2 separate regions of the Homo sapiens genome follow, and region 2 is linked to region 1. The links come from fine-mapping of genetic effects on gene expression. A gene starts in region 1. The other region holds a variant in brackets. All regions are shown on one strand. Distances are from middle to middle.

Evidence for each region. PIP is the estimated chance that this variant, and not a neighbour inherited with it, causes the effect.
Region 2: its variant is fine-mapped to the expression of CALCRL in whole blood (TOPMed, PIP above 0.99).

Annotation. Positions count from the first base shown.
Region 1 is chr2:187,442,330-187,453,688 of GRCh38, forward strand. It overlaps CALCRL (calcitonin receptor like receptor), which reads right to left and starts at 5,923. Exons shown (of 15, transcript NM_005795.6): 1 at 5,710-5,923. All of the region lies in intron 2 of CALCRL-AS1 (CALCRL and TFPI antisense RNA 1), which reads left to right.
Region 2 is chr2:187,343,625-187,354,983 of GRCh38, forward strand. It overlaps CALCRL (calcitonin receptor like receptor), which reads right to left. Exons shown (of 15, transcript NM_005795.6): 13 at 8,490-8,708; 14 at 8,296-8,337; 15 at 1-2,775. The coding sequence ends at 2,560. The region is part of intron 2 of CALCRL-AS1 (CALCRL and TFPI antisense RNA 1); the gene reads left to right. Among named protein-coding and RNA genes, the nearest start is that of CALCRL, 99 kb to the right of the region's middle. The variant G/C (reference allele first, on the strand shown) is at 6,023.

The DNA.
Region 1 (11,359 bases):
ATGCAACTGTAAGCAAAATGAGAATCCCTTTGAATGTATTTTTTTTTAATTTATGGAAAAAAAGGTTTTGGTTTCATTACATTCTCAATGTGGGTCTTAATTTATAAAATATTCAATGATAAATTCTTAAAATGAATTATGTTAAGCCAAAACCTAAATTTTTTTTGCCATCCTATTGCACAGGCACTCTTTCTTTGTATTTTTGAAATATAATAAATAAGAAAATATAAGTGTCTTCCATTAGGTGGCAGTAATAAGTTCCTATAATAAGAACTTTAAAAAAAATGGTCAAAAACAACTTGGAATCCTAAAAGCTGAATTTATTGGATCCTTCTTAATGTTCTCATTTTGAGATTGTGGAGCTGCTATAGTAATCAAAACTAAAATTTTCCGACAGATGTCTACATTTATCTCTACTGTAGTATAGTCACACAAGTAGCAAACAAATTTGTGTAAATAAATTTACTTTTATTATCTTGTGTTAGAAGAGATTCAGTTTGGATTTGGTGAATCATATCACTATTCAACTTTGCACAACTTCAGTAATGAGAGGTCTAATAATAGATAATACACAATAGTATAATGAAATATTTAGGATGTAGATTCATAATATATGTAGGATAAAACCAGAGTTTTGTCAACGAGGATTGTGCAACTTTGGGTTTCACTGAGTTTCACATGTAAAGAAACGCAATAATTTTTGTTTAATATACCTTTTTAAATTGTTAATATGCAGGTATTTTAAAGTGCTCAAGTTCTATGGAGATAGTAATTATCAATATCAATTTTATTAGGTTCTGGCATGTATTGTATAATGGCAAAAGGATGGTCACTGTAACAACTGTAATTATAAATCACACTTGTTCACTCTTCCTGTCTTACAGATAGATTGCATTCTGTTTATCCGTATGGGTGTTGATTGTTTGGAATAAAATTTTGCATAGAAACAAATTATGTCCTCAGTCTCATTCACAACAGACTTAAGGTGAACATGAAAATTTATTGAATATGTACTAAATGCCAAGTGCTAAAAAATTTCCACGTGTTAATTCATGGATTACTTACAAAACCTTATAAAGCAATATGATTATCACTTCCACTTTATGGATGAGAAAGGGGAACTAATAAGTGGTAAATTTTGGGTTCTTATGTGGATGATCTAAATCCAAAGCGCATCACAGTGTACTTCTATAAATACCATATACCTAAATTTCTAAAATAAATGCATATTTTTTCTTAATTTATAAAGTACATTGGTATATTTGTAGAAAAGACAGAAACAAATACATCATTAAAAGTAAAATTTTAAAGACATATGCACATTGACTAATAAAACAATAAACATGTTACTCTAATATTGTTTCCATTACTAAGTACAAAATAAAAATCACAGTTTTGTATTGATGACATTCTTTTCCCATGGTTTTAACTCTCTTTGTCTATTATAATGTTATTTATTGCTCTCTGATACTTACCAAAGTTTCTATTTTTCCTTCAAATTATCCTTGGAAGAAAGGCAAAATTGAGGTGCATATGCAAAATATCTGTGTAATCATTGGTCTCAGTTTAATTAGTGAATGCGGGTTCAAATTAACACTCATTTGTAAAATTTATGAATTTGGTAGTTGGATACAAGAAAAATTTATCTTCATTTTGGTTAATAAAACCAAACCTGTGTGCTCACGAATATGCTATTGATCCTCCATGTGACTGCACTGTAAGGAGATGGGCACTTATAAACCATCTAGTTGCTATGTAAGTAAATCATTGCAATTTAACATACCAAATGATATGCTCAAAATTCACCATAATTTCATGAGAAACATAAATGAGCTTAGGTTAGCCTAAGCCTGAATAGAGAAATAACTACAGTTTTATACAAAAGTTTATGTCATATTAACACTTTTTAATTCAAAAAGATATGTTCCATGTTAAGGGAAATAAGATTTGTCTGAAAATTGGGCTCCATCCAGCAGTGTTAATAAAATATAAAACTATAGCCCCAATACCATAGGGGTTATTTATGTATTCATTTTGGCTTATGCTAGATTGAACTGGGTTGGGATTTTTGTCTTTTTAATTTTTAGTAATGGAAAAGGTGTATAACACATTTAATTTAAACCATGAAAACATTAAAAAATAAAACTTGCTTAACATTTCAAAAGTAAATACACTATTTGGGCCATTTTTGCAAACAATAATATTTTGGTGTATTAGTTTTGAATAATACTGTCTCTTAAGTAAACAAACTAATTGAAGAAAAAAATGGAAGAAATGTGTTTTAGGAAAATATTTGCAACTTATTACCTGATAATAATTCTAGTAACCTAGGAAACATAGACCCTAACTCAGTTCACAGGCAGTGATACTATTTTATATTTTTGTAAGAAGAAGTAAGACCTTATTATGTCCTTAAAAATTGAATACATTTCTTCTCTTTTTTGTAATATAGCTTATTATAATTAAATTAATTTGATTTTAAGATTATTCAAATAAGGAAAAATGCAGAGATTAATTGACCTAATCTAATTTACATGGTCCATGTGAATATATGGGAAAAGGATAGATCCATCTGGTTAGAATGTAGACTTGTATTTCTGGTAAGTTTTTATTTTCCACCTATTTGCATCATAATATTTTTGTATATTAAACGAGAAGATGTCTTGAAATAATTTGTAATCCAGTATGGTACATGTACTTTGTCAGAAAAATAGAACATACCTGAGAAATTATGAATGTTTATAGTTTACCCATGGATTTGAAAACCAGATACAGATAAATGTTTTAAATAGCTGTGTACCATTTGTCTATCTTAAGCGTATTCTCCAATATTCTGATTAAGTCAAAACTAAGATACGTTACACACTTGACTCTCATAAGAGCGTCTTTCATTAACACCCTTGCAATGATAGCGCTTGTGTTTATGGTTTAATAGCTTCTCTGAATGCCAAGCATAAGATACGCAATAAAGCAAAAGATTTTAAATACTATTTCTTGAACATATTTGTATTGTGAAAAGTCGATACTGTAATCATTATATCTCCAAAACCAGAATTATTTGATAAAGCTGTATTAAAAGTCATATATAGAGTATGAAATAAATTTTGTTTAGTGAATAAGTTTTTGATCCTTTAAAGATTATTATATTTTTTCTATAAAGATCTAGAACAATCTTTTAAAATTAAGTTACTATCAAACTTTTGCCATGTAGATAAAATTGGTAGCAAAATATTTTTACAATGTTTCCAAATATGATCTAGTTAGAAATATATAATGATGCTATTAACTGAAATTCAGTTAGTGTTTATGTGTTTATCAAATACTTTGTCCACATTAATCTGTAAAGCAAACAAGGTAATCATTTTACCTTTATATTATTTTCAATTTTTTATGAAATTTTATTTCTGTTATGCATGAAAAAATAGTATAATATGTGCAGGTGAACATAAATATTCTTACAAATATGCTAAGTATTGTCTTCATTTAAAATTCATTACATGTTCGGAGTCACCAGTGAGAAAACCATATGAATCTTGCCCATTCATTTAAAATAATTTTTAAAATTACAGACCCAGTATTATTTTAAACAATGTTTTTGTTATTCCAATTTTTCAAAGTGAATGAACAGTTTCATATATTATAAAAATCTACATATTTTAACTTTTAGTATAATGCTTTGGTATGTAAGATAGAAAAAAAATCTTGTAACAATAATCAAAAACATTATCTCTTTAAGAAATAGAATATTTCAGGTAAAACATATTTCAGCTCACATTATTCACATACTATTTCAATTCTATGTTTCATTTTACATATTTAGCATTGACTGTAGGCTCAATGCATTGATTTTATGATGCTACAAGGAAACATCTTCTAGCAAAGTAAATTCATTTCTTTATGGCTAAAAGCATGCATTGATATTCTGATATTTTCTTATCATTAAAGAAAGCACATTTTGAATACAATAATATGAATTTTTATTTCAAACTTCCAGTTATGTCCTCAAATATTTCCTTTGGCTAATGACCTTCAATGTTCATCGCCTAGTGTTTTTCAAAAGTATTTTTGGAAAACAAAGATTATAAACCATACTGTTAGTAAACTCATAAAAATTTAATCAAATTATACAAGAAAATTATGGGTTTGGGACTAGCAATTAAACAAAAATTAAGGAAGTTTGGAGAGTTTCTCATTATAAAATATGATCATAATATAATACCTCCTAAGAAAATAATCTGAATTAAAAATAATGTTGTTTTAATTTTTGTTACTAACCCACGTCATTGGGTTAGTAAATGTGTTGTTTCCACTTTCTCCCCCATTTATATAATGGCTAAAGTCACATTCTAAAAACACTTTTCCCATTTCTACACATGTGTCAGGGAACTCAGTACAACTGAAGATTGAAAAGAGAGAGAAATCAGCCATGATACTCTTAAAGAATCACAAATCTAAGAATTAATTTAAATTTTCATTATATTGAGGAATTTGTGGAAAAATTGAGTTGTAAATTACTGAGGAGTTACTCAGGATGTTTGTAGTCTATTATTAATGTGCCAGATATAAGTGATTAAGTACAGGATGCTTCCAATGCAGGACATCTTGGAAAGTATAATTGCATTTAGGTAAGAAAATATATAACTTAAAAATCATATCTATCAACATCATTTAAAATTTGACATCAAACTTTCTCCAGCAACAAATTTGTGATATATCTACACAAACAATTTATTAAGCAGACATTAGTTTCTTAAATTGTTCAGGACAGTCTGTACTATCGGAATGAGCATTAACAGATGTTTTATCCAACATTTCAGTAAGTTCCATCCTGGAAATTCTTTTTTAATAAATACTTTAATTTCTTTGTTTAATCGTCTAATATACTTCTTTGGGAAAGCTGTCACGTTTCTTTATCCACAGATATCGTGGTATCACACCCCCCTCCAAAAGCTTGCAGAGGGGAACCAGTCAAGTTGAAGTATTCTCTTAAAGATTTCAAAATTAAGAATTGTTTTAAAAATCTACATTTCCTAAACTCTAGGTTTTTTTTTTTCTTTGTAGCCGACACCATGATCCAAATAAAGAGCAAACAGTTCAGGGTTAGCAGAAGAGAGATTTAAACACATCTGGCAACAATGAACACAAAAATTAGTTCAGTAGTTACAGATATATGTGTAAATAAAGGTGAAAGGCAAATAAAAGCAAATGTAATAAATACAAAGTGATTACTTTTCAAAACTCTGCATTATGATCAACCACAGAGTAAGTGAGACTCCGAGACCCATTAAGTAGTTATTCTTTCACCTCTTTCTTACAGCTGATAACATGGAAAGTTTAAAGACCCTTCCGGGGGGAGAAATGTTTTCCAGTTGTCAAGATTCAAGCTTAGCTAATATTAGAGCTAATTTTAAAAGACATTGTTCTGTGATTAAGGTATTTGTTCAGAAATATGTCTTTTAATCCATTTAGATTTTTAATACTTGCTAAATTTATTTTCTAGAATACCATGGTAAACAATATTATCTAGTAGTATTAGATTTTGTATTCATGTTGGGGTAGTAGGCTGTATTTTCTCTAGCATGTGAAATAAGTGAGACTATGTTTCAACATTATTTCAGTGCTATCTACTAAATTCTATAATAGAAACATTGCCAAACTATATGAGAATACTACTTAGAATAAATATATTTATTTTGAATGTGCACTTACCCAGTCCAGCTCTTAAGGAAATTCTTTGTGAAATATTCTCAGGATGGAACTTTACTTTCTGAGATTCCGCAGAAGAGATTTACCCACAAGCAAGGTGGGAAAGAGTGAAAGCTTTGCAATGTGATCCTGCAATTAGGATGAGATTCAGTTAGCAGAGCTTGATGGTCCTAAAGCAGGAGGTGACACTCTCTGCTGGAGAGAGAGAGGTTGTTCTGAGTAGATTGTAAGTGTTGTCAGATTGTAAGTGATCAGCAGCAGAAGGGAAACATCAGAGCTTCCTGTTACATCACTCTGACCCCGCCTGCAGTTAGTGTTAGGTTACTTTCTTTCTCAAATAGCATACCCCAGGAAAGCAGCACTCCTTTCTTATTGTGAGACAAGAGCAAGAAGCAGCCTGAACAGAGAGAGATCATAGGCTGTGTGAATACATTGTTACCAGTAAAAAGCTGGCTGGCTTTCACCTTGACTGAGTTCTGTTAGAACTTGCCAAACAAGCTACTTGTGATTTGAAGGAAATCTGAATATAGTATTCTGCTCAAAGAATCAAAGGAGTTAGGCGTGTGTGTGTGTGTGTGTGTGTGTGTGTGTGTGTGTGTGTTGAATTATAGCTTACAAAGTATCCAGGAAAAAAAATCTAACAAATCTGTGTTCATAGCACAACACAGAAAAAAAAATTAACTGTATTCATCATAACTGGTTTTGTGATTTGGCTCTTCTTAATTTGGAGCTCTGCTAATTGGGTGCTGTTCCTCCATCAGTTCCTAAGTGCAGTTCCTAATCAGTTAATTAGATCAAGAAACTTTATCCTGCAGTTTTTAAATCTTTTATTTTTTCCTTTACCTTCTTCATAAGAACATGAGTGTATGTGTTATAAATTCAGGTTGTGTATGTGTGTGTATAGAGTGTTTCTTTTATAATATATAAGTATATATATTTGACAAAATAGCCTTTTGAATAATTCATAATTTTAAAATTATTGCACACATTTAAAAATATTTGGTATAATTATGTTATTTATAATATAAAATAATTTATACCACAATATTTGTAAGTCAATATAATCTTAAAGAAAATATAGATGTTGTAAACATAATATTATAAAATAATATAAATACAAAGGATACTTTATTTCTTAGACAAAATTTCATCTCAAAGCATAGTTTTTCCTGAATATGTTTAATACATCATTGGATATGATCAGGGGAAAATGTAAATTTAAAATGCTTTTATCATTTTTATAATTTGGTAAATGTTCGATATGAAGCAATAATTATAATCCCTATAACCTAAACAGCACTAAAAGTCACTTAATTTATCAGGGCATAAATTTTCTCATCTATAAACTAGAAGAGATAGATTTTATGTCTAAGGCTTTGAATCGACAAATTTCATAACATTTTGAAATAGATAAGATACGGTGAGGATCATTCAACTCTTAGTAAATTGTTAGTGCAATTCCAGGATAAAATGAGGTGCCATACACCTTGTAGGCAGACAAAGGAGGTAAAGGCAAAATAAATTCAGGAATATCATGTTTTTAAAGCAGGGTGCTCATGTTGACATTTTTATTGTCTGAATTAGTGGAAGAAAATGTTTATACAATCTTTGATTTTAAGACCAGTGAGATCAATATTGATTACAAAATACAGACATATAAAAAATAGATATACTTTCATCTCTATAATTATGGTTAATAGAAAAGACTTGTAAGAAACTGAGTTACACTGGTGAACCGGTTCTGATACTGTCTGGTGTGATCTTGACAAAGCTTTTTAGGCTTCATGTTCCCATCTTGAAATTCAGAGAAAAACAAATACTAGATTTAATATGAAAGTAATAATGGGTCATGTCTTCTCATCTTCCATGCTAAGTGTAATATATGAATCCTATAAAGAGATTAATATATAGTTTTTGAATTTAATTAAATCATGGAAAACTAAAACTTTTCCCAATATGTTTATAAAAGCATTGATATTTTCGTCTTTCCAAAGATTCATTTTTCTTTCTTTCCTTCCTTCCTTCCTTCCTTCTTTCTTTCTTGATGGAGTTTTTGCTCTTGTTGCACAGGCTGGAGTGCAATGACGCAATCTCAGCTCACTGCAACCTCCACCTCCCGGGTTCAAGCAATTCTCCTGCCTCAACCTCCCAAGTAGCTGGGATTACAGGCGCCCGCCACCACACCCAGCTAACATTTTGTATTTTTTTGTAGAGACAGGGTTTCACTATGTTGGCCAGACTGGTCTGAAACTCCTGACCTAAGGTGACCCGCCCACCTTGGTCTCCCAAAGTGCTGGGATTACAGACATGAGCCCCTGCGCCTGGTGAGATTCATTGATTTCATTTGCCCAATACTAGTAAGGTCTACTGAAGGAAAAAAATTCATGTTTTGAGCTCATGTCATAAGACCCTTAATCCAATGCTCTTTCTCTTCTACTCTCTATCAAGTGCTATACTTTATGGGGTGTCTAGTAGAAGTTGTATCATTTATATTTAAGTTGACGTACACATGGGCCCATGGCTGTAGTCCATGAAGACTCCTTGATAAATTTTATTAATATCATCTTTAATTCTTATTTAGACATAACAGGAAAATTGCATCCTAGTAATCCTCAAGAGCTGCCATTTTATAAACTTCAGAAAAAATAAATGGTACAAGGACTTCCAGGAAGGCATTCAGGGTATTCTAAGTTATGTAGGAGCAAGTGATAAGATAGATCATAAAAACTTCTCTAATACCTACTGAAACATGAAGGCAAATGTTTGGAAAACTGTAGCAGAGCTAAATGAAAACATTTCAATAATCAATGAAGCAATTTTGAGCCAACGTGGCATTATATGGATTTATATATTATAATCTTTCTTCAGAAGACATTAAAGCCACTTGCAATAATTTAATTAGTAGTGACCAAATTTGTATTTTGAGCTAGGTAATGTGCTAACTGTGTTTTAGTGAGATAAGTAAAAATAGAATGTTCCCTGCTATCTAGTCCTTTAATGAACAGATTGACTAGCACATGAGAAGTCAAGGGCCAAATTCTGTGAAATTAGCAACTGATGCTGCTAACATAGAATCTAGAGGTAATGATGCAGAGCACTGCAATAAGGTTTTCTGTAGAAGTGAGGAGTGGTGTATAAGTGTAGAAATATATACATGTAATGATGGACAGTCACACATTTTCATTTTAGCATCCTACATGCAGGATTTGTGCTTTTATTTGTGCTCACACATAAGGCTCACAAGCGACCTTTTCTTCCAATAGGGGATACTAGTTACTATGTCAAATGCAAGTTGACTCAAAATTAGGAGTAGGCTAACTCCAAGTTTCTGGGCTACTGTTTATATTGAATATGTTAGTTAAACCAGACCAAAATGTGGTTTGACAAATTTAATTTTCTACTGACCAAACTGACCACTTATTTTGAATTTGTATGGATACTGCCTTGGAGCATAATTCTTGCCACAAGAACAAACAAAATAAAGCAGAACACTTTTACAGGAAATATATTAAGGACAGACTTTCCCTAGTGAGAGTGCAAGAACAAGTCAAAAGAAAGACTTTTAAAATAATTATTCTGAAGTTTTAAAAGTTATTATTTTATGTTAATAATTCTTCTGTGTTCTTAATTGTCTGAAAGCAATTACTTATACTTGGTGATAATTTATGCAGTCAGCAATATTATATATAACTTGCCTTATGATAAATGCACCAATAATTTGAGGAGAAACACATAAACTTTACATCAGAAGCTTATATGTTTAAAAGCTTTACATTAAAAAACTACTTCTAGCAAGGAAATAAGTTGACCCAACCTTTTATTATTTTACCTAGCAATTGCTGTTAGCACTTTTCAAGTTGCTTTTCAAAACAAAAATAAATTGCATTTAGTAAAAGAATCTGGGTACAATGTCTGGGACATGAGAGTGAATATGCTATTATCTATTACTAAAACCAAAGGGCCGTTTTTCACTTTAATTGGGCACATAGCTATCATTTTAAAGAAGATTACAATATTATTTTAAAAATAGTTACTATGAATAAGAATTTGGAAGGTGCAGAAAACTATGTTTGAAATGAACAGTATATATATCAGGTCAGATATACAGAAATGTATACCAGGTTAATATACAGATAAATAAAACTATTTTATAGCCTATATGTAGAGTTTCTTTCAGTATTTAATAATGTATTTTCTCAAGAAAGCCAAGTAACATAAAAAATAATTGGCCAAACATTTGCCTATTTTAAAAATTCTTATATCCTGATGGATTTAGATCTTCCTGCGAACTTAGTATTTTCTTACAGATATTCATGAGTGTTGGAGGGGTGGCTATTGCTAGAATAAAGTGCTAGTACTGGCTAGTGAGCTATGTCATGGACTAATTCAAATGGATTTTTAAATCCAACAAAATTATAAATGCTTACTTTAAATGGGAGTACACAATGAACTTTCTGAGGGGAAATACCTTCAATAGAGTGATCATATGTCCTAGTTTTCTGGGGCAGTCCCAATTCATAATTTCAGGCTCAAAAATGCTCTGGTTTGAAGAAAAAAATATTATTCAGTATATGGTGAACTTAGCCATACTTATCAATAGAGCAATGACAAGTAGCACATAAATACTAAGAGTGTGTGAGTAATTTATTTGGGAAACCCAAATCTTCTTTCCAGAAGAGTTTAAAATAGTTCTTACTATTTCTAGGATGGTTTTAGTTAGCATCAAAAAAGATGCCCTTTTTAATTCTGGATATGCATTTAATGTGGATTTATTCTGAAATGCCTCTTATTTGCTAAATATCAATCTTGATTGTGAAAATAAAAGGTTTATTTATATTTGTATTTAGGCATTTCGACTTAAGTAGTATTTGATTAAATGACCAATCCCTATATTTTACATAAATAATTTAATCATTAAGTTCTAAAGATGCCAAATAGTATTCATGTCTTTCCAGTTATAACGAACTATTTTCTTCAGCTATCATCATATTTATATAACTTGTAAAAACATTAGCAACTTATATTTTTATTTTCTTTAAAAGCTTATTCATATTTAATGTTAGTCAATAACATACAGTGAGACTTTAAACATTAATGACTATGGAACTGTATGTAATGCATATATTGAAATGTATGATGGATTTGCCTAGGAACCCTTAACACCTTTGAGAAAGTGTCACATCTTTCTTTTTACAGTTTTGAGGAATCTATAGTGTCATCCTGCCATCTAGTGTTAGACATTCTCAAATTACAAAAAGTTGTTCTCTGACCAGAATAAAAATGAAATTCTATTGCTTTTTCTCTAATGAAAAAAATCTCAACAACTAGGGAATATTTCTAAGAAAACAGTCTATGTACTTGATAAATATAGTTACAAGGGGCAGGTACTTAATGTAGACTATACAAATTAAAGCCCATATAGTCAATGGAGAATATGTATTTCATCGAATTTTAAGTGCAAAGGAAAACAATGATGTAATAAATGTTAAATCACAATGTAATTTTAAAATTACAAATTAAGATGGCATACCTTCTTTTGTCTTTCTATGTATTTATCACTCCATCTGTATTCATGATTCAAAGCTAGAGATGGCTAGACCAAAGAAGACTAACTCCTACATATCTGATCAGGAATACAAATCAAATCATTGAA
Region 2 (11,359 bases), 99 kb before region 1:
AAAATTAAAATATGACTTTCACAAGTAATCACAGTAAAATGCAGATCTACATTTTAAAAGCTAGAAATTTCCCCAAATTTATTTTTTTGACAGCAAAGAAGTTTGCTTTAAAAAAAGTGTCAGATTTACTTTGCTTTATGAGTATGATACAAAGATATTAAGTAGCATTTAGCTTTTGAGAAATCTAACATTTAAAACTATTCTAAAAATATATGGGTACAAAACTAACAGTGATTAATCATGAATGACTGCTACGCCTCAAGACTCTACAACAGACAAACCCTGGCTATAAAATAAATCTGATCTAGAATTAATATTATAAAAGCACAACAAAAATACTTGAAAATTACATGTTTATTTTAATATAATCTCTGATCATTCAACATTTTTTACTGTCACTTCTACTGTCAAGATGGTTGAGAGTTGACAGTTTGTCTAGAAGAAGGCTGATATATGTCAACATGGTCAGCAAAGGATTTAAATATGGGTCTTTGAATAATAAATAGCTAATAATTGAGTTTATTAAAATGAATTTTTGTATAATTTAGGCAGTTGAAGGTCTAGAACAGCCTGCGTTCCTTTCTATGGCAGCTTGCTATGAAATTCATGTTTCAAACAAAACAATACTTTTTCATGCATAGATAAATTATAAATGTACTGACCAGACCATTCTATATGTTAATTCTTACGAATTTAGATAATTTGTCTTAGCAATTTGAAATAAGTTCTGAACTCACCATCTATTGACATATTGACAGCTTAAGAAACAACTTATGATGAGTAATTTGTTTCATCCATTTTAATCAGATTGACACACTTAAAAAACAGATACCCATGACTTTTCCCAAAATTGACTTTTACTAATTGAAGTCATTCTTGTTCTTTAGAGATTTCAGCGGAAAATAACATTAGAGAAACTGAATCCCATGCAAATTTCACTTTAATTCATTAGCAAGGTTTTCTTCTATCTTTATTTAATAAAGTCTGACAATAATTCAGTAAGATCTGACAATAATTTTTTCTCAATGATATATTCAAGTATTTCCCTAATTTGTATTATATACAGTAGCTCTATTAAAATATTAAAGCATTGTATATGGTATATATAGTATCCTTCTAGTTTTTTATATTTCTTGAATAGCCTGGGACATTTCCAAAGCTATATATCTTCACATAGTAAAAGTCAGTAAAGTAATATTTTAATGGGGTAAAATCTATAAAAGTAGCAGATTGGTATTTATCACAGTAGTTGTTTAAAATTTCTGGATTAGAATGTGAGTTCATTGTCAAAATGAAAAAAGAAATATGTCAAACACACCTATTATTAAGGTATGAGTTATCAAAACAAATATATTCAATAAAATAGTGACCTTGTGTTTTTAAAATAAATATATCTTATGATAGATGTTTCTGTTCTCTTAGTTCTCAAACAGACTTCTGATGCTGGCATCTGGTTGTCTTTAAAATATTTACCAAATATAGCATTCCAGACTCTATTTTATTTAAAAAATCAGCCCAGATACAGTATCAGATATTAACATACACACATTGTTGCATTATATATTTGCTTTAAAAATTACATAGGTTGTATGTATTTGATTTGAGACTATAAAATAAAATAATGGAGTATTTACAAGCTCATTTTTCACAATTTCTTTTTACAAAATTCCAAGAAAATAAGAAATCCTTCATTGATTTTCTTTATATAAAATGATTGCTAATTTGTTTATACAGTAGAAATGGAAGGGACAAAATTTATATTTACAGCTAGGAATTCCCTCCCACTGTTTGGTAAGACAGGAAGAGGTTGACAAGGTGTTTTGTAGCATCAACTAAGATGTTTTCCTAATGATATAGAAGTAGGATTGCATATTATACATCCTGTTCATCCAGTTTCCACAATGGATATGCCACAAGATATAACTGATGTGTCAGCAAATGAGTAGATCATAACAATTGTACTCAGTTGCTTTTCATAGAGAAAAGAAAGCCAGCAGGGATAATTCACTTCTGGTATTGTCCATTTGAGAGGGTAGTTACAAAAAGGACTACGGCACTCTGGGCAAAAAAAAAGTCAACTGCCCCAATCAAGATGGGATAAAGAGTTTTAAAACTAAAAGCTAATTTTCCCTTCATGTTTATAGACCTTAGCTAGGTCTCTTGGGGCAATAAGGGTAGAATCATGCCCAACATGTATGTTTAGTTTTACAGCCATTTGTTTGTGAATTCATGCAATGGTGTGCTGGAACTGGCTTACACCAGCTCAGAAAAGTTGATTGTGCTTTTCTCCAATTCCACACTTGGTGATGTCAGGTTAGTAGCGTCACATCAGGCATAGTGGGAGTATTTACTGACAAACATTACAAACCAGGATTTCTTTTTTCCCACATAGAGCTGGATGTTACACTCTTATCAACACACTACTAATTTCATGTGAAGGCTCTTCTTTATGACATTCAAAAAGTCATTTAATATTGAAGTCTTCTGGCTACAGAGTCATGGGTCCAAGTCCTTGAGTTAGGAGAAGCACAAAACAGTGAGACAACCATCCTTCTATTTTCAATTATATAAATTTTCTGGTTTTAAGAGAACATTTTCAATATCATGGATGCTTTTTCCATTTAAGTGTTCACTAGGACAGTCATGACTATAACCTGGACCATCACTGATTGTTGACACTGTGTAAGACGCACTACGAAGAGCTTCTGAGTTGGAAAAGCTGTTTCCAAATTGGATTTTGTATTGATTCCAGTTTCTTCTCAGAATTGCTTGAACCTATCAATCAAAAGGAAAACAGAAAGAACAAGAACAACCCATTAATTGAAATGAAGACACTGTTTTTGAAGCACAATTAAATAGGTCTTGGAGAAGAGCTTTTTTAAAAAAAGTTATGTTAATCAGTGAATAATATAGCTTCATTTTCTTAATTTAAAAAATTAAGTGTACCATCTTCACATTAGGAAATGTATTACAATTACATTGTACTTTACATTCCATTAATATTTTTCATGGCATGTTTTGTCTTCAAAGCTTTTATAATTCATATGTATTTATTGTTGCCAAACAAATAGGTAATCTGGACCCCCATTTACAAGATTTCATGTGCAACATTGAGTTTTATATTAATGTCTTTATTAATAGAATGAGAAGACAATTCGTGACAGGATAAGCGAAAGATACACAAAAGAAAAGAAGTTAGGATACGAAGAATACAAATCAGCAGCAGCAGCAGCAGGGCAGTAGCAGCAACCTTTGTTTCTGAGTGACTCCCATATGCCAGAAATTGTGCTACATTCTAAAAAAGGGAGCATGATATTTGTCTTCATGGAGCTTACTACATAGAGGAAAGAAAAGTGTTGAACAAATAATTATAAATCTGGTGAATATTGTGAAAAATAAATTTAGGAATGTAACCACTCCATTTTTATATATTTGAATCCTCTTCTGCTGAATAAATTTGCAGTTTAATGACTTCCTTCCCCTCTGTTTGAAGCTAGAGATCAGGGGTAGGTGGGTCCTATACAGTAAAATATTGGTCATAATGGAATGTAAGGCACAAGAGTGAATTTTCTTCATTGTCAGTCAATGGGCACAAATGAGAACATTTAAATACATCTCTAGCTCAAGTACGTTGAGGACTTTTCCATGTCTGATGAGTGAGCACACTGGCTTGGAGCAGCCTGCTTTTAGGTTATGAATGTGTTAGCCAAATCCTTGTGACCCGATCTATATCTGCCCAGAGTGGGTTTGCTTTGAATGGTCTTCCCCAAGCTCTCTATTGCTCTTTGGCTCTTTCAGTGCTTTTCCAAAGGGAATCTGAGCATCTCACAGCAATTTTCTGGTAATTCATTTTCTACGTACTGAGGTATAATTGTTTAACTTTCTACTACTTATATAGAATTCCTCAACTTTCTCTTCACTATATCCATGTATACAAATCAATATTAAATCTTTAAAAAGGGCTTACTTCTCTCTTGTTATTTCCTAGTCTAATGGATTAAAACACACACACACACACATACACACACACACAAAACCTCAATTCCTCCAATTACAAACATTCTATAGAAAATAGGTGTTCCAGGATGTCTGCAGCTTTACAGGATACTTCAGAGTTCCTGTTAAAGTATCTTATAGTCTGTCACTTAAAATAAACTCAAAGTTTTATTGTCTCATTTCATGTAGGAAAAAAGAAGGAGCAAATATAAAGCCAACAATGTGTTTAGGTAAAATTAAATGAGGTATTAAAATTATCAGTTAATTTCACTCTACTATATAGTTCAAAAATTATATAATTAAAATGAAATAACTTCGTATTGAAAGTTACATTATGATGAAGTTCAGTAACTTCAGCCCTTTCAAGCTCAATTTAAAAAATATATGGTAACCATATCTGAAGAAAACAATTTATATTCATGTAAATATGCTTTGAAAATAAAAGCATTTATAAGGCAACAAATTTATTTATCTTGCAAAAATTAAACTTTCCTCTCAATTTAGTAATATAATTCTAAATCCTCCGTATAAAATATCTAAATTCAGATAATTTAAAAATAACATCTGCATATGTAACAACCTCAAGATCATGAGCAAACTACAAATTGAATGGCTTCAGATTGTGAATTTTAAATACATATTCAGAGATTCAAAATAAAAATGACCATTGACCAATTATCTAGATACATCTGATGAGAAATATTTTTGATCCTTATTTTTTGTTTCATAAACTTCTCCTAATTTTGTTACTAAATGCTGAATTGGTTGAGTATGTAATCAATATAGTTTCTGGTTGAGGGGAAGTGGCATATAGCTTTGTATAAAAAATTCTATATAAAGTATGAGAAAAAGCTGAGAGGAAGTAATATCTTAGCTGTGAGTCTAGTACTTATAGTCTTAAAAAGGAAAGCTTAAATTCAATTTGGAAGGAAAATGGCTATTGAAATATATGACTGTTTGCTCTTAAAATATCTACTTTGATTAAGGTCATCACTCTATTTCTTCCTTGCAACTAAATCATCAGAAAAACCATAGAAAGCCAATTTCATGAACTGTGAGGTCTTACTATAGTTAAAAATAAACCTAATTAAAGATCCACAGGCCTTGTAGACTTGTTTGTTTATGTTATTTGCTCTAAGGATGTTACATTTTTCTTCTGCTTCCTCTAATACAATATCACACCTGTTAAATACGACATTAAAGCAGCTACTCTTAATAAACTTTTAATGAGAAAAAATCAGTAGGAGCAAATTTCCATTGTAAGGGAAGATAGCTGGGTGTTATTAAAGATATGAATGTTTTTATTGTTTTATGCATGACCATGTATAAGTAGTAAGGCAAATGTTTAGAATGTAACATTACAACTTTATATACCCATTAACACCCAATAAGGAACTAACTTTATACTCCTTAATGGGAATCAATTTAAAATATTTACGAAACTTTTATAAAAATTCTACGTAGTTCTCATGAAAGAATTTGGGTTTAATTGTCTGTCCTCAACAAAACTTTTTGCTCATCTTATGGAATATCTACCCTCAGGTGTTGTTAAATATAACCTTCTGATGACTAGAGTCCCTAGTTTATGATCACAGTGCACATTTTTGTCTGAGGGCACTAGGGATAAAATGAAAGTAATCCAAGCACTTGTCAAGCCACATTTATTTAACTAGTGAGAAATGCTAATAGCAAGACGTTAGCTAAAAAGTGCATAAAAGGTGGGAAAGAAAAAAACACAAATATTAAGCTAAAGGCAGGCATTTGACCTAATGTGGAAAACAAGAAGGAAACTAAGCCTGAGCAAATGATTTTAAGAAGTACATGACATAGTTGGAACAAAATGAATTTGGCAGTTGTTTCTTCATGTTATGAGAGTGGGAAAAAGTAAGAGGCATTGAGACAAAAAGGGAGGGATCACAGTATTTCTTAAGAAGAGAAATGAATCATACTGAAACAGGGATTGTATCTCCAGAGATGAAGAAAAGGAACAGATATTAGAAATGTTGTGAGGAACTGAAAGATTTGG[G/C]AACAACCTAGCTCAAACATTGTGTATTATTGTAATTTTCCAATGTCAAAATTTTCTCAATTTTAGGACATGGCAGAAGATCAAGGTTCTGTGTCCCTTTTGTTTACACAGATCGAGTGTAACAGGAGTGTTAGGCATTACTTTAGATATTCCCTGGGCACTCTTTCTAAATAAAAGAGCCAATTTGGGATTTTGATCCAAAATGATTAATGTTCCTGTTGGCACATGTGTTTTTGAAAATAAGTGATTTGACAAATCAAATAATAAGTATACTGAGAATCTCATGAAGTGGGGCATGGTGCTAAAAACTTTATCTTTCTTAGCTTGTATTTATTTTTCTGAGACCTGTGTAGAGAACTTGCTTTAATTTCCCTTTAAGAAAGATAGACACAGGCTCCTGAAATTTGCCAGCATTTGCCAAAATATCACAGCCAAGATGAAAAGTAGCATCTTTGGTGATTAAATGCATTGCTGTGTTTATTCTACACTGCCTCCTGTTACAAAATATTTTACTAGTGAGTGTGTTTTGAATATTTAAAAATTAGTTCATGGAATTAAAATCTGTTTCTGTAGATACAGAGGTCTACCTTTCCTATTTCATGCATGTTCTTTAGCATGTTGTCCATATCACTCTCATCTATATTTAATTATTACATCCTATACAAGTAGCATTTAGGGTTGTCTAATTCAGTGTATATAACATTAAATTTATAGAGGTATATAATAAAATCTATTTGAATTTTACTATCAAACAAATGATTTATCTATTTTTTGTAACTGCATTCTGTCTATGCTTCTCTGATTTCAGAAAAAGTTGCTCTTGTCTTCTGTATAGCAGAAGAATTATGGAAGTACCACTTAAATGTATGAAATATAGTCTACAATGTGTGGCAACTCTACACCTCATTACAAATAAATAAATATAGATAAATAATAATAATATAAATAAATACGTGTTGAACTTGAGATATATTTTAATTAAAAACTAAACATTGAGTTTTATTATATGTCAAGATGAGGAAGTAAAAATATTACTTAAGCAAGCGCAAATAACATGTTATAGTTTTTCATGATGTGTGCATGATTTCCAATGTTCATTTGTTTTATAGGAATGGTTGTCATAGGTTATACCAACTGGTCCCATGTGTTCCCCATCTGAAGCTTTATGATAAGCTTCACATTATCAAGTGTCTGTGTCTCACTCAGCTGCTGTCTGGATTTCTAAACTTTGTTCAATTTTGCCAAAATCCTCCTACAGGTTAAATTGTGTCGAGCAGATTAAAAACATATAAAGAGCTAAGTCAATAGAGCTCAGATTACTGAGCTATAACACATTTGTATGCATAAGAAATATGTTGGCTGGGCGCGGTGGCTCACGCCTGTAATCCCAGCACTTTGGGAGGCCGAGGCGGGCGGATCACAAGGTCAGGAGATCGAGACCATCTTGGCTAACACGGTGAAACCCCGTCTCTACTAAAAATACAAAAAATTAGCCGGGCGCGGTGGCGGGCGCCTGTAGTCCCAGCTACTCGGGAGGCTGAGGCAGGAGAATGGCGTGAACCTGGGAGGCGGAGCTTGCAGTGAGCCGAGATTGCGCCACTGCAATCCGGCCTGGGCTAAACAGCGGGACTCCGTCTCAAAAAAAAAAAAAAAAGAAATATGTTACCAGCTTTCAAAATGCCTGAAACTTCCCAAGTAGGAAACGCATGGATAAAAATCTAGAAGTACTGAAGAGTACATGGTCATGTTATGAATTAGAGCATTCTCTTCTAAATTTCCTAACCCATTGAATTTCTTCCCTGTATAACCAAGAGTTTAATTTTTAAAATCCTTTCGTATTTGCCATAAAGTTGTTTCCATAGGCTACATTGTAAGACAGGCAAAAAAGAGAAAGAGGGAAAATGAGATGATCCTATTTCTTATTTCCTATTAGAGTGTATGTTCTATGAGATTTGGGATTGCCTGGCACTGTATCTGGGGAAAAGCTCAGACTTAATGGGACTCAAAGGTATCTCAAAAGATTAGATGAATAGCATTTGAAATATTTTTAAGTGAGGTTGACTTTTCCCTGGCTTTGAACTCCAATATGACCTGAGCATTTGAGAAGGAGAGTTAAACCTATGGTAAGAGATTCTATGGTTCTTTCCCTGATGGAAACAGAATTTAACATGGTTGTTCCTGGGGAATTTATAATTTTATCTCATTTAAATACATGGATAGATAGACAGATAGCAAATATAAAATAATAGAAGGAATAAAATCAATTATCATACCTCTCCATTAAAGAAGCAGAAAATGGTAGAGACCAAAAGACCCTGTAAAAGAAAAATAGAATGATCTGAATCCAAATGGAAAGATACATGTATTTGTAATCAAATAGCTGTACAAGTAGTCAGGAGTAAACCAAAGCTATATGTATATTTAATTCCAAACTTCTCAAGCTGCCTTCTTATCAAGAATGCCATACCTGGAAGTGCATAAGGATGTGCATGATGTAGTCATATACCTCCTCTGCAATCTTTCCTTCAGGTCGCCATGGAATCAGCACAAATTCAATGCCAAGCAATGGCACCAAGATAAGAGTAGCTCTCACAGCTTTCATGTACAGATTGGATTCCGCTTGGTGTGTAACTTTTAACTTGGTGATGAGAACGCGTACAATATTTAACAAGAAAAAAAGATTCACCTAAAAACGAAATTAAATGGCATCTGAAAATCATTTCATATTTAATATTAAGAAGCATTATTCAAGTATCTCCAATTTTATAAATCTTAAAATATTTTTAATGTACAAGAATATTTTTAAAGGGTATTATTGCCTAAGGCATTAATTTATATTTCTGGAATTGTGATTTATCAATTTAACAAGTACATCAATTTTAATAAACAAGTTTTAAAAAAGTAAAATTAAATTATGGTATAATTACTGTGGAACATATTCAGTTGAAGAATATTTCAGTTTTTCTCAGCTCATTTTCACGTGCAATTAAAAAAATCTGTGGTCTAAAAACTAAAGATTTTGAACATTTTCATATCAAAGAAAATAATTGTTTATGGAAAAATGCTAATTTTTAAAGCATCCCCTCTTTATCATGTCCATATGACATACTTTCTAAATGTATATTATACCATAATAACCATTTTCATCTTTCAAACCAAAAACTTTCCTGTTTCTTCTAGTAACAATAATCTTTACAACACCTCTCCAAAGTATCACTGTAATCCTCTTTTACTTATGAGGGAACTTTGAACCAGCTGATATTCAACCCCAGTCATTCTAGAGCTAAAATAATTTGACATTCTATAAGACTTCCTGTTAATTACTGTCTGCAATGACATAATATTCACTATTTTTGTGCCTCAACAACTTTCTCGAAGAGACAGTAGTTTCTTTGGATGGGAGACATAAACCTTTGACACTCTAATGTGACTCAGCAAACAGGGTCCTACTGAAACATATTTATTTCTCTTTCTCTCGCATAATACAAGTTTATCTTTCTCTTATTTTCACCCAAGTTAGAGTTTATCTCTTTCTTATTTTCACCCAGTCAATATCTTTTACTTTGGTCCATTTTCTCTATGCCCATTCCTTATGCCTTCCATAGAATCATGAATATTAATTCCAGAAGAGCTCCATAGGGGCTAATTGCTATTCTCTTTTCTTTTTCCTCACCCTTAGTTCTGGCATCTGCCCTTTGTTTAATAATCTTAAATTTTCAATCTATGCACCAAATATAATTTATATCCACACAGTTTAAAAATTGCAAAAAATAGTAGTTTCCCATTTATTATAGAAAAGAATTAACAGAGAGCCTGCATTTGCTAAATGGACACATGTGTCATAAAAATAACTGGGCACAAAAATATTCTACCACTATTTTTAGAAAATTTAATAGAACATATGCTTCAAAAATATACAGCTCACTAAAATCCTAATGGAAACACATCTATGAAAAGCAATGTTTGCAGACACAGAAATACGATAAAGGCAAAAGCAGAATAAGCCATTTCAACAGGTGTGAGAATGAAATGTGACAAATCAACATGTCAGCTGTTATTCCACTCATCCTAATATATTCCCTTCTTAAGCATCCATTGCTCTTTAAAAAAAGATAATAATGCTCTTTTATCTGCTTAATATCAAATATTTTATAATCTTAATACATTAAATCATAAACTATAAAAAGACAGTAGAAACATTGCAATTTAGATGATCCCAATTATATGAAAATTTTTAAATGCAAAGTGCTTCTCCACATGGGAAGTCTGATTTAAAATGTGAAACTAGAAACTAGAGTTGACAATAGAGTTTATTCTATTAGCTATTTTATAAATAATTGTCTTAGAATGAATTGGATGCTATTTTTCCACACAACATAGTTTTGAGAATTATAATCCCTTCATCTTACTTTATTTTCTGTAAATATTTCCATTTACTATAAGCAAAAATAAAAGAAGAATTTTAAATTTTAGAAGAACTATGTCTGAATTTCACCCACCCTTGAGCAAAACTAGTTCAGTAGAAAAGAAGAAACCTTTAACTGACATACTCATAAAGTTTACATAGCTAGTAGGCCCATCAGGCTATTTTGATATCACAGTACCACGCTTGGGTCATGACAGGAACTGGGGTAAATCTATACAGTGGCTGTAGGACAGTTTCTGGAAGTCATTCCCAGACAATCACTTAACTATGCACTGAAGTCACCTAAATATCTGTCACTGAACCCAAATTAAATGTATCATCTCTCAACTTCCCCTCAACAGGATCTCAAAAATGCTGTAGTCACTCCAGTACCACCCTGCTCACATGGAAATGTGATGGAGGAAGTCTGAGTGGAATGACTTGTGATTAAAATATCTTATTTATAAAAATTGTGCAAAAACATATGATAACCATGAGAACAATTACTAGGGCTCTTCTGAGGAGCTTGGAATTGGCCAGGACCAAGAAGGAGCTCTGGAGCTTAAACAAGGACAGAATGATTTATCCGGACAGAAAAATAGGTTCCTAATCTTGTTTTAGGCCAACAAGATGGGAAAGTTTTAGGCAAATAATGTGGATTTTCGCTTCTTTTCTTACTGACCAGCTTGATGGGCTATATTCCTGTATTTCATCCTTACTCTTCTTCCTTAAAGTTTACATGAACAGATGTTTCCAAGGATAGTGTAGATGACGTTACATTTTGCATTTGCTAGGTGCTTTCACTTCCTGAACCTTACTGATTTAGAAGTCTGAATCATGTACCCCTCTGTGCAGCCAGATCTTTTGTAATAAAATATTGTCTTGCATTTGTTCTGGAATCTCCTGGGTAGCCCAAACGATATATTATAATT